2 separate regions of the Homo sapiens genome follow, and region 1 is linked to region 2. The links come from fine-mapping of genetic effects on gene expression. Tissue or cell type: whole blood. Region 2 holds a variant in brackets; the other region holds the start of a gene. All regions are shown on one strand. Distances are from middle to middle.

Evidence for each region. PIP is the estimated chance that this variant, and not a neighbour inherited with it, causes the effect.
Region 1: ARVCF starts here. The variant in region 2 is fine-mapped to the expression of ARVCF in whole blood (TOPMed, PIP above 0.99). The same link has a PIP of 0.9 or more in NK cells and blood mononuclear cells.

What each region holds. Positions count from the first base shown.
Region 1 is chr22:20,014,987-20,020,504 of GRCh38, reverse strand. It overlaps ARVCF (ARVCF delta catenin family member), which reads left to right and starts at 3,682. Exons shown (of 20, transcript NM_001670.3): 1 at 3,682-3,916. It also overlaps a transcript of TANGO2 not described here. RefSeq lists a silencer at 3,391-3,790.
Region 2 is chr22:19,969,980-19,975,760 of GRCh38, reverse strand. ARVCF (ARVCF delta catenin family member) reads left to right here. Exons shown (of 20, transcript NM_001670.3): 11 at 4-75; 12 at 1,522-1,649; 13 at 1,968-2,118; 14 at 2,444-2,642; 15 at 2,725-2,836; 16 at 2,934-3,024; 17 at 3,350-3,403; 18 at 3,790-3,875; 19 at 4,426-4,545; 20 at 5,018-5,781. The coding sequence ends at 4,533. Among named protein-coding and RNA genes, the nearest start is that of MIR4761, 9.1 kb to the right of the region's middle. The variant C/T (reference allele first, on the strand shown) is at 4,057.

The DNA.
Region 1 (5,518 bases), 45 kb before region 2:
TAGCCTTTGAGCTCACATCCAGGTCCAGGCCCCAGCGACGAGGGGCTGGCCCAGCTTGACTTGTGCAGGGTGAGCAGGTGGGCACTGACTGGGGCCCTCCCAACAGGACAGAGGCATTAGCTGGGACCGCTGCTCCTGTAGCCTCTGGGCTGTGCCTGGGCCTATGTGGCAGAAAGGTGGAGAGTCAAAGCCCAGAGGCTCAGGCCCTGCCTCAAAGTGAGCATTCAAAAAACTATGACATGGATGACAAAGACATTAGGGATAATGATAATGTGTAAAGCACTCTAAACCCAATGTCTGGGTCAGCAGTTCTTTCATCCCACTTTATAGATGTAAACACTGAGACTTGGAGCAGTTATGTCATTCAGTTGAAGTTGAAAAAGGTGGCAAGCAAGAGAGGCCACATTAGCTTCAACCTGTGTTGAAGACCTAGGTGCCCTGATGCCCTGCAGAAAACTGGGGCTCAGGGATGGGAAGAGCCTGGCTGGTAATCAGCAACGGCAAGAGTCTAACCTGGACCTACATGCGGGCCCGTTGTGCTCCACACTTTTGCTATCTTATCTGTGTTTCCCCTGGAACCCAACAGAACCTTTTACAAGGACTCCAGATGCCCAGGGACTCATGGCCAGCGGGCCGCAGACCCAGCCAGACATGGTTGTCTCTCCCACCATCCAGCAGTGGGATCATGTGGGGCTGGTACCAGTGATTTCCCTCTGAGCAGCCAAACCTATGCAATCTATAGGGCCAAGAGGTGGTGGTGGTGGACAAGTGGGATCTGGGGCTTGGGGGTGATGGACTGTGCCCTGGGGTTCATGGCAGCACCTGGAGAATGGGCTTCCCCAAAGCACCAGGCCATGCACCTCAAAGCTGGACATGAGTTGACCAAGGTTTCCCTTTGCCCACAAAGAGGGATGCAGTAACATGTCAGATGGTGGTTTGCATCCTGTTCTGTCATACCTTGTGGCCTTGGGCCATCCCCACCCCCAGCCATACTTTTCCCAGCTAGACAGAGCCAGAGCAGACACTCTGATCTTCTTTGTCACCACTGACACTCCAGTCTGGATGACATGCGATGCCAGGAAGCAGGTGACGGCAGATGAAATGGGTCTAGGATGGGCACCTAAGCCCTGGGATCTTGGGGCTGCAACAGGCTCACTGGCATCCAACCTCTAATTGCACACAAACTCAGATAGGAAGCTCACTACCTTCTGTGGCCACTCTTTTGATTTCAACAGCTGCCACTCTTGAAAAGTTCTTGACACCCAGCTGAAAGCATTTTCTCTCTGTGGCTTTCTCCGGGGGCCTCACAGCTGTCCGCATGGAGCTAGGTGAGAGGATGAGAGAGGGAGAACACTGGGCTACTGGTCCCTGTGGTCTCCCTTGCTGTGTTTTTCTTATCTTTTTCTTTTTTCCTTTTTTTTGAGATGGAGTCTCGCTCTGTCTCCTAGGCTGCCGTGCGGTGGTGCAATTTCAGCTCACTGCAACCTCCGCCTCCCAGGTTCAAGCGATCTCCTGCCTCAGCCTCCCAAGTAGCTGGGACTATGGGCGTCTACCACCATGCCCCGCTACTTTTTTTTGTATTCTTTTAGTAGAGATGGGGTTTTGCTATGTTGGCCAGGCTGGTCTCGAACTCCTGACCTCTGGTGATTTGCCTGCCTTGGCCTCCCAAAGTGCTGGGATTACAGGCATGAGCCACTGCGCCCAGCCTCCCTTGTTGTGTTTCTGACCCCTGGCTGCAGCCTAATGGGCCGACTGCTGGACAGCGGTCCTGAGTCCTGTTTGAATTGGTGCTGCCCCGACATCCTCTGACCTCAGCTAATGATCCTGCCTGCCGAGGGCAGACAGGTCTCTGCAACCCTATGGGTGGTAGGGGTGGTGATGAGAGGAGAGGTAGTCTCACTTGCACAGATTTTGGTGTATGGTTCTGTCTTTTGCACTCTTTCAACAGAGGTCTGTCCAGTCCCTCTTGCAAGTGTGGGGAGGGGGTGGTGCAGGACTATGAGGTAACTGTGAGAAGAGGGGCTCCAGCAGAACCAGGGTCCAATGGCCTTGAAGAGATGGCTGGGGACAGCTGGACTCATTACGTCTACTCCTAAATGGAGGAAACGACCCCTCAGCTACACAGCACCTGAGCCAGAATGTCACCATGGTGCTGCTCCACAGGATGACAGCTACCTGGTTTGTGAGGGCCCCTATTCTAGGGACAGCTACTTCATTCTGCCCTCCCAGAGCAGCAAGCAACAACCCTATGCCAGGAGGCCAATTGGCACGTCAAGTGCCAGCTCCAATCGATTGATAGTAGCTGCCTGGCTCTGAAAGGCAGCTGGGATCGATTCACCATGCTGCCAGCACACAGATGGACCCAGCGGTGGTCCCAGCAGTGAGTTCTTGCCTTGGGCCATTTCATTTTCTTTGTCCTGGCCAAGGAATGATTGGATGAACACACTGGACTCCCAATATGGGTGGATAAGACAAGAGTGTCTGGTCACACCCCTCCACCACTCATAAGCATGGTTGTGGGCAGTTTGGTTCCCCAGGCGGCCTTGGAGAATGCAATGAGCCGAGGAACTGGTCATCTCCAGGTGCATCCAGGGCAGGAAAGGATGACAGCATGCGTGAGCCAGGGTCACTGGCTAAGAAGTCATCTCAGGACCTCCCCCTAGAAAAGCCCACTGGGCAGCATCCCTGCTGGTTCCCCCCTACACCACAAGGTTACGCAGAGCTGGCGGAGGGTCATGGTCCCACTCATGTCAGGTGCTCTTAATCTGGCAAGGAAATGTAACCTACGTGAATCTCAACAGGCAGTGAAGCACCGTTTCTTCCTGACTCCAGGTAGGGTGAAGAAAATGGGACAGTAGTACGGGGTGCGGGCATAAACGCACAACTCTGCCTCCCCAGACGCAGAGCTGTGGGGCTGTGAGAATGCCAGGAGGAGGTAAGAAAGGGCGGCCCCATGGGGGGCCTGCAGGGTGGGACAAGCCCAAGAGGTCTCTACATCCAGGCCTGGTGGGGGAGGTGAGCCCCTGGTTTACCGAGGGGGTCCCTTCCTGCCCTCGGAAATACTGCAGCTCCTACCTCCATCGTCTCCCCGCTGCGGGGACCCAGGGGCGTGAGGATGAGAGAGCCCCCAGGCCCCAGGGTCAGACGACTGTGTTCAAGCAAGTGAGAACCTCTCTGAGGCTGTTTCCCAACTGTAAAATGGGGATAGCAGCAGAACTCTCTCTCGCGGCTTGCGTGAAGAATACAATTCGATGTCGACAGGAGGGAGCGGCGCGCAGCGCGCAGCGAGTAGCAGGCGCTGAAGAAGGATACCTGTGAACTGGGAGTGGTGGCGGAGGCTACGCGGCCAGAGTCCGGGGAAGGGGCGCCGGCTCTGCCAGTCCCTGCTCGGGGCTGGATGGTCGGGGGATGTTCTCGTAAGTCGGCTGGGAGGGAGCGGTCCCGCGTACCCTGCCACCGCCGCCGCAGAGGTTCGGGCAGGTGCGGGGCCGCGGCCCCTCCGCGAGGGGGCCGGTCATCCGCCGGGACTGACATCCCGGAGGCCCAATGGCAAGCCGTCATCTCCGCGCATCCGCCCAATCGGCGCCGGTTGCCGTGCCGCGCCGGGTCTCTCGACCAATGGGAAAATTTGCTGTCAGATGGGGCGGGGCGGAGATTCGCGTCGCCGGCCCGGTCCGCTTTGCGCACGGGCCGCGTGAGGGCGGGAGGGCTGGCCCGGGGTCTCGGGTTGCGCGCTGGGCCTGGAGGGAGGGGGCGGCCCCCGCACCGGTCCGAGTTGCGGCCGCGTGGACTGCGACCCGCGCCGCGCCGCACCGCGCCGCGCCCTGGGAACGCCGCTCCCCGCGCGCCAACGGACCCGGGGAAGCCCTTCTGGGGTCCGAGGCCGCGCTGCGGGGCCGCCCACGCTGCGCTCCAGGTAAGCCTGAGCCAGTGGGCGGGGTGTGGGACCCGGGGCTGGGGCCTCGGGTCGGAGCCGGGACTGGGGGCGGGGCTGCAGATATGGGACGCATTCCGGGCAGCGGTCCGGACAGGGTCCTATCCCTGGAGTCGAGATCCGGGCGAGGGTCTGGGCCGGACGTCGGAGCCAATCTCCGCCCCACCCGCGTCTTGTCCGCGCGCTCTGCGGCGTCCGAGACCCCGGGCCGGCGGGGGCGGGTCTCTTTGTGCGTGGCCTTGGGGCCCTACCCTACCCGTCCGGGCGTCTTGCACTGAGCACTCCAGCCGAGCGCGGCCCGACCCCGCAGCCGTGCCCGCCCCGCGCGACGCTTGGCGCCTAGCTGCCAGGGCCCTGCAGCCGCCGAAACTTTCCAACAGCCCGAGGGGCGGCAGGCCGGGAACTTTCCTGGGGCAGCGCGCCGCCGGGAAGCTCAGGGGCACCGACGGCCCGGAGGTGTCCTCGCGCCGCGCTGCTCCTGCCGCCTCGGGGGTGAGAGAGGGCGCGCCACCCGGACCCCCGGCCTGGGTCCCCCTCCCCACGCCGCCCTGCGCCCCCTCGGTGCCGGTGCGGAGACATGTCATCTCCACTCTGAGGGAGACTGCTCGGTTTGCTGGGGAGTCGCCCTGGGCAGGTGGCCTGAGAGCTCCAGCCTATTTTAATTTTTAAATAATTAAATATTGGCTGCTTACAATATTTCACCGTTTCTTAGCTATGTGTAATGTAACATACTTAAAATGGAACTAAAGGACTTCAGCTCCCTTTCCCTACATCCAGGCATATTTAGAAATAAGGAAAAGAAAGGTGCCCCGTGGGTATTTTTTAGAGTAGGCTCTTAATGCTGCTGTCTAATAACCTCAGGTGAGTACCCAGGCTGCTGTGGGGGAAACCTCCCCTATGGTATGGGCCAGGGGGGTGCAGTGGGAGCCTCCACCTCTCCCGACCTTAGCTTCTCTGGGGTAGCTGCCTTTACTTCTTCCTACTTCTTAACTACTGCCTTATCTGCCTTTACTCTGGGATCTGGGCGGTGTTTAGAGGTCTGGTCCAAACAAGGCAGGTGTTACCTATCTTGTACTCACTCTATTGGAGCTGGGATGGTGCTGAATGCAGGGGGGCAGTCAGCGCTCTCTTGCCCGGTGTGCCATGCCAGTGGCCGGTCAGCTCCTAAGCAGGTGATCCAGGCCTTAGATCAGGCGACAGTGTGAGCCGCAGCGTGTCTGGGAAGGCATTTCCCCCAGTCTTGCCCCATCCTATCCGCAATGTCTGCTCCCAGCTGTCCCCTGTCCCCACCCTACCCCCATTCTGGGGTCCACCAGCGCCCAGCAGAGGACTGGGCACAGAACATTCGCTAAGGGACTCAAGTCCCAGCTGAGAGGGTAGTTGAGCACAGCCAAGCCAGCCCCTGCCCAGCTCTTGGCTGAGCTGCCCTGTCAGGCTTTTCAGCATAAACACAAGGACCTTCTGACCAAGGTTCCTCCTGGGAGAACAAGTTCTGACCCTCAATCCTGCTAAATTTGAGTCTCCCCACCCACCACATCTGGGCTGCTTGGCTCCCATGTTTGCTCTGGCACTCCCTCCAGAGGT
Region 2 (5,781 bases):
CAGGAAAGAAGGATGGTGAGATGGACCGGAACTTTGACACGCTAGACCTGCCCAAGCGAACTGAGGCCGCCAAAGGTGAGTGGGCTGAGATGAAGCCAGCTCCACTGGGGGATGTCTGGGCTCAGGATTGCCCTGGTAGTGAAGCTTTGAGCCATCAAGCAGGCCTGGAGGGCCTCAGGGAACAGATGGGGAAACAGGCCCCTAGGTGCAGGATTTCCTGGAGGGTGATTCAGCACCAGGACACCTGCTGAGGGTTTAGAATGGGAGGAAGTGCCATGGGTCATGTCAGGCAAGGTTGGGGGAGACAGGCACAGAGAGGCCGAGGGCTTGCTCGGCCTCACGGTGCGTAAGAGGTGGGAAGGTTTGGAGGGACGCCTCCAGTGGAGGCAGGGCCTCCTGTGTTAGCCACAAAGCTGAGTTATCTGAGGGGGCTGGGAGCCAGGCGGGCATGCTCACATCCAGGTTCAGAGGCTGGGCCAGACGAACACCTGCAGGGACAGGGCAGTGCCTATTGGGCTGTATGCTGGGATCTGGCTTGAGAGAGAGGTCTGTCCTGGTGGGGCCTAGCCAGTTGGAAGAGCCTGCATGTCACCAGGGTGGAGGGCTCCAGCCGCAGGAGGGCTGTGGGGGAGTATTACAGGCAGAGCAGGGCTGATGCAGATACCCCAGCGGGGAGTGTGCTTGGAGTGTGTTGGAGCAGAAAGCCCAGCAGGGCAGGAGTAGAGGGAGCATGGGGCATGAGGACTGGCGAGGGTGTGATGAAATGTCACTGGGTGGGTACAGGGGAGATCGAGGTAGTACCCAAGCCAGGCTGAAGCCCCAGTTTGGAGACAGGCAAGCTTGGAAGGCTGTTTTGACCCCTCATTTCTGGAGCACTGGGCAGAGCAGCAGGACGGCGCCTCAGTTGCCCGGGAACTTGGAGTGGTTGCCAGGAAGAGTGCCTCCTGTTGCTAGGGCAGCTGCCCTGGTTGCACTGCATCAGTTGACTTACAGAGGGTGGGCTCTATTGTCAGTGGGGGAGGGTGGGCCCTGTTGCTAGGGGGCGTAGCTCTCTGCACAGCTTCAGTTACTGGTGAAAGCAGGTCCTCTTGCTAGGGGTGTGGCCTTGGTTATACAACTCTCAGTTACTGGCCAATGCTGGTCTTGTTGCCAGGGAGGGTGGGCCCTATTACCAGGGGCGTGGCCAGGATGCATAGCTTCAGGGACCTACCGGGAAATGCGGGTCTTGTTGCTAGGAGAGCGTTCCTGGTTGACACCTCCCTCCCCACCCCAGGCCTCCTGGATGCTCCTGCTGCCAGGCAGGTCCAACTGATTTGAGCCTCAGTTTGTTCCTCTGTGAAATGGGAACGCTTTTCCCCTTGGGTGACTATATGTTGATAGTAAATATTACGTGACTCATCCACACCCATCCCTGGCCCCAGCTCACCCACGCCCTGGGAGCTCTGAAGCGGGAAGCGGGAGGGGTATGATGGATGAGAGCAGATTCTGGGTGACCGTGGGTGGCGGTTGCCCTGCACCTAGGCTTTGAGCTGCTGTACCAGCCCGAGGTGGTACGTCTCTACCTCTCCCTCCTCACGGAGAGCCGGAACTTCAACACCCTGGAGGCTGCCGCCGGCGCTCTGCAGAACCTCAGTGCCGGCAACTGGATGGTGAGGGACCAGGTCGGGCAGGGTGGGCAAGTCCTGAGAGAGGGAATCCCAGGCACCTCACTGGTGCAGCTCCTGCCTCGGCTGGCGGGGAAAGGAGGGGCCACACCACCACCCCAGGATCCAAGAGGTGTATGGGCTGCGGGCAATGCGTGCACCCTGGACGGTGGGAAAACCTCGGTGGAGGTGCCGTTGAGCTTTTGGGGTAGGGCTTTGTCGGGCACGGGAGCAGGAAGGTCCAGCTGGAGAGAGCGGTCAGCGTCTGGAGGTGGGAGAGTGCCTGGCATGTATGTCTGAGCAACCCTCTCCCCGCCTCCGCAGTGGGCCACGTACATCCGCGCCACAGTGCGCAAAGAGCGCGGGCTGCCGGTGCTTGTGGAACTGCTGCAGTCTGAGACCGACAAGGTGGTGCGCGCCGTCGCCATCGCTCTGCGCAACCTCTCGCTGGACCGGCGCAACAAAGACCTCATCGGTGAGGACGCCTGCAAAGCCCACGCCTGGGCACCGAACTGTGCCTGCAGCTTTGGGGTCCCATCGGAGGGGCTTGGAGGATGAGTGGTTTGGGAGTCCAGGCCCCGGCCCTCTCGCTTGGGCGCTGTCCCAACTGGAGGTAGCTCCAGTCCCCCCGGCCCTGTCTCTGAAGCTCAGCGCCCTGCTCACAGGGGCTCCTGTGACCGCCTGCACACAGGCGGTCTCCAGGGGCTCTCCTGGCAGTGCCCCTCGCCCTCGCGGGATCCCTGCTCCTTCCTGGAGAGGTGGGGCAGAGGTGTGTTCTGACACCTAGTCCTGCCCCTCAGGGAGCTACGCCATGGCTGAGCTTGTGCGGAATGTGCGCAATGCACAGGCTCCGCCGCGACCGGGGGCCTGCCTGGAGGAAGACACCGTGGTGGCGGTGCTCAACACCATCCACGAAATCGTGTCCGACAGCCTGGATAACGCGCGCTCGCTCCTGCAGGCACGCGGGGTGCCAGCGTTGGTGGCTCTCGTGGCCTCCAGGTGTGGAGGGGCGGGGTCGGTGGCTTGGGGAGCCGCGGAGGTGGGGGAGGGGCCACCACTGACCCCGCCCCCGGCCCCACAGCCAATCGGTACGCGAAGCGAAGGCGGCGTCACACGTGCTGCAGACAGTGTGGAGCTACAAGGAGCTGCGTGGTACCTTGCAGAAAGATGGTTGGACCAAGGCGCGCTTCCAGGTGCGGCTTCCCTGGCCTTCCTTCCATTCCCTGCTCACTTTGCCTTATTCCCACTCCATGTGCTTCACCCACCCTGTGTCTGTGTTTTATGTCTCAGTCAGCTGCTGCTACTGCCAAGGGGCCTAAGGGAGCACTGAGTCCTGGGGGCTTCGATGACAGCACGCTGCCACTGGTGGACAAGAGCCTTGGTGAGTGGTGGAGCTTAGGGAGCCTAGAGGGTGGCGACCCCAGCTGCCCCAGTTGCCTGACCCTTGGGTGAAGGTGAAGGAGGAGTCAGGCCTCCCACTGAGACGGCTTCCATAGGCCACTTTCCCTGCCCTCTGCCTCTTGGCTACTCCCTTCCCACAGCATCCGCGCTGTTGTCAAGCTGGGGTGAGGCTGCCAGCTGGCAGAGGTTGGGCACCTTAGTGACAGAGAGCCTCTAGGGCTACCTGGGCCAGCCCTGTGTGGGCTTCTCTGCCCCGATCCCCCCTGGCTGCCACATGCAGCCCGTCTCCTCCTCCTGCCTTGCAGAGGGCGAGAAAACTGGCAGCCGGGATGTGATCCCCATGGATGCGCTGGGCCCAGGTGAGTGCAGATGCAGTGTGGTTGGTTTTCTGTGCCGGGAGGGGACCAAGGCCTGAAGTGGGCCTGCTGGTTTTATGGGGTGTAGATGGTGCTGGGTGGAGGAGAGATATTTGGTTTAGGGGTGCTTAGAGGGTGAGGTACAGGGCAGCTAGAGAGGGATTAGTGCTCAGCCAGGGGCTCTGACCCACAAGTGGAGGGGAGTCTGGAGAGTTGGCAGGGTGTTGGTGAGAGCTGGCACCAGCCTGGATCTCCAGGACAGGGTGGGTGGGGGCTGTCTCCCAAAGCCCCTGTCCCACGAGTCCCCTGTGTCTGGGCTGAGAGGGAGATCTGCTCCTACAGGGCCTCCCTCAGAGCGCCCCTCATGCCCCACCTTACCCCATCTACAGACGGATACTCCACGGTGGACCGGAGGGAGCGGAGGCCACGGGGCGCCAGCTCTGCAGGAGAGGCCTCTGAGAAGGAACCCTTGAAAGTAAGTGGTCATGTGGCTGTGGGCAGGTCCCCGGTGAGGCCCCGTGTCTAGGGGTTGCTGGAGAGCAGCCTAGGCCATGCTGGGTCTGGTCTGGGCCCTGGGGTACAGCTGGGTTGTGGGGCCAAGCCCAGGAAGCAGCCCCTTCACGCCAGTCAGTCTGTGGGTACTGACAAGTTTGCAG[C/T]TCCCACCCACTGGGGACAACACTGCCCGGCCACACCCTGCATGGGCCAGAGCCTGTGAGCTAGTGTGTGTGCACCCTTCTGTGCATGTGCGTGTGAGAGCCCACCAGGGTCCACCAGCGATGGCAGGACCTGCTGCCTGCTGTGTGCCAATCCCCTGGCTTCCTGTGCAGGCCTGTGTGTGTGCACGTGCCCGCCCTGGGCCCGTGTGAGCCACACGTTTCCGGCTCCCTGCGCCCTTGGTGCTACCTGTGCTGTCCTGGCAGGCCAACCCTTACATCGCCAGCCTCGGCCCTGCCCCTGCCCTGTCCCCCCAGGAGCTCTAACTAACCTGCTCTATTGTGCCTCTAATGCCCACCCGTGCGCTGCAGCTCGACCCCAGCAGGAAGGCCCCTCCCCCCGGGCCCAGCAGGCCCGCGGTCAGGCTGGTGGACGCCGTAGGGGACGCTAAGCCTCAGCCCGTTGATTCCTGGGTCTAGCTTGCATGCCTGGTACGTTCTCTCATCTGGTTGTTCGTCCACCTGTTCCTGCCCTCTGGGCCAGGGCTTCTTGTTAGTCTCCGCTGCCTGCACGCTCTGCTCTTCCCGCACGTTCCCCGCAGGACTTTGGCCTCCAGTCCAGCAGCCCAGTGGCCCATTCCCGGAAAGACCAGGCAGAGGTCAGAGAGGGAGGGTGCTCCCTGGGCCCACAGCCCTGTCCCAGGCACTGTGGGATCAGGGGCCTGAGGAAATGGGACCAGAGTAGGGATGGGCACCATACCCTCCAACGCCCTTCGGGGACCAGCAAGTCAGGATCAGCCCTGGTGCCAAGACCCTTGGGGTCAGCCCACACCACCCAGGGCAGATGCTTCTATCCACATCTCCATCCATGTAGCCTGTGGAGTTGGCTGCCCTGCCCTGAGGTTACACGTGGTCCTGTGCCACTCAGTGGCTGCAGCGTCCACCATCCCCTTTCCCTCTGCAGGGCCCAGGCCCAGCCTCTTGTTCTTAGGGCTTGGATCGTGGAAGAAGGGCCACCCTGAGCAGATCGTGCCGTGGAGCTTGGAGCCCCCTGGCGGCAGGGGTTGGCAGCGCCTCGCCCCAGCCAAGCCTGACTTTGGGGACACCCTCCTGCCCCCCCACCCCACTCCCCCCATCCTACCTAACTCCCTAGGCCTGAGTTAGCTGTTTACTGACATGGTGCTGTGTGTGAGCGAGTGACAGAAGGCCCGAGGAGGCCGACTGGGCTGCTGGGGCAGGGCCCAGGGAGGTGGCAGGGAAGGGTGCCTGGCTGGGCTTTGGGGCTGGTGGGATAGGAGGGTGCCCCTGGGAACACAGTGCCCCAGTGGTGCGGGCCAGGTCTGGCGCCAGGGGCAGGCAGCTAGGCAGGGAGGGGGCTGGGAAAGAACTTGGACTTCTAAAGGCGGAGGGTCTCCCTGGGCACCCTGCAGGCAGGCAGACCACGGTGTGGGGGGTGCCCCACAAGGCCCAGCCCTGGGCAAGGAAGCTTTGGAAGCAGCAAGGTGGGGGTCAGGCTACAGGTGCCCCACCTCCCCAGAGCCCTGCAGTCACGTGAGGCCCCTGTGCAGTAGAGAGCCTTTCTCCAGCCCATGCTGGCTGGGGCCGGGGCTGCCGCATCTGCCTGGAGCCTGGGCAGCACCTCCGGGACTGACCTTCGGCAGTGGCTGGGGGACTGCTTTCAGTGCCTGCTGTTCGTGACTCAGAAACAGAAGAAAAACACTGAGAAAA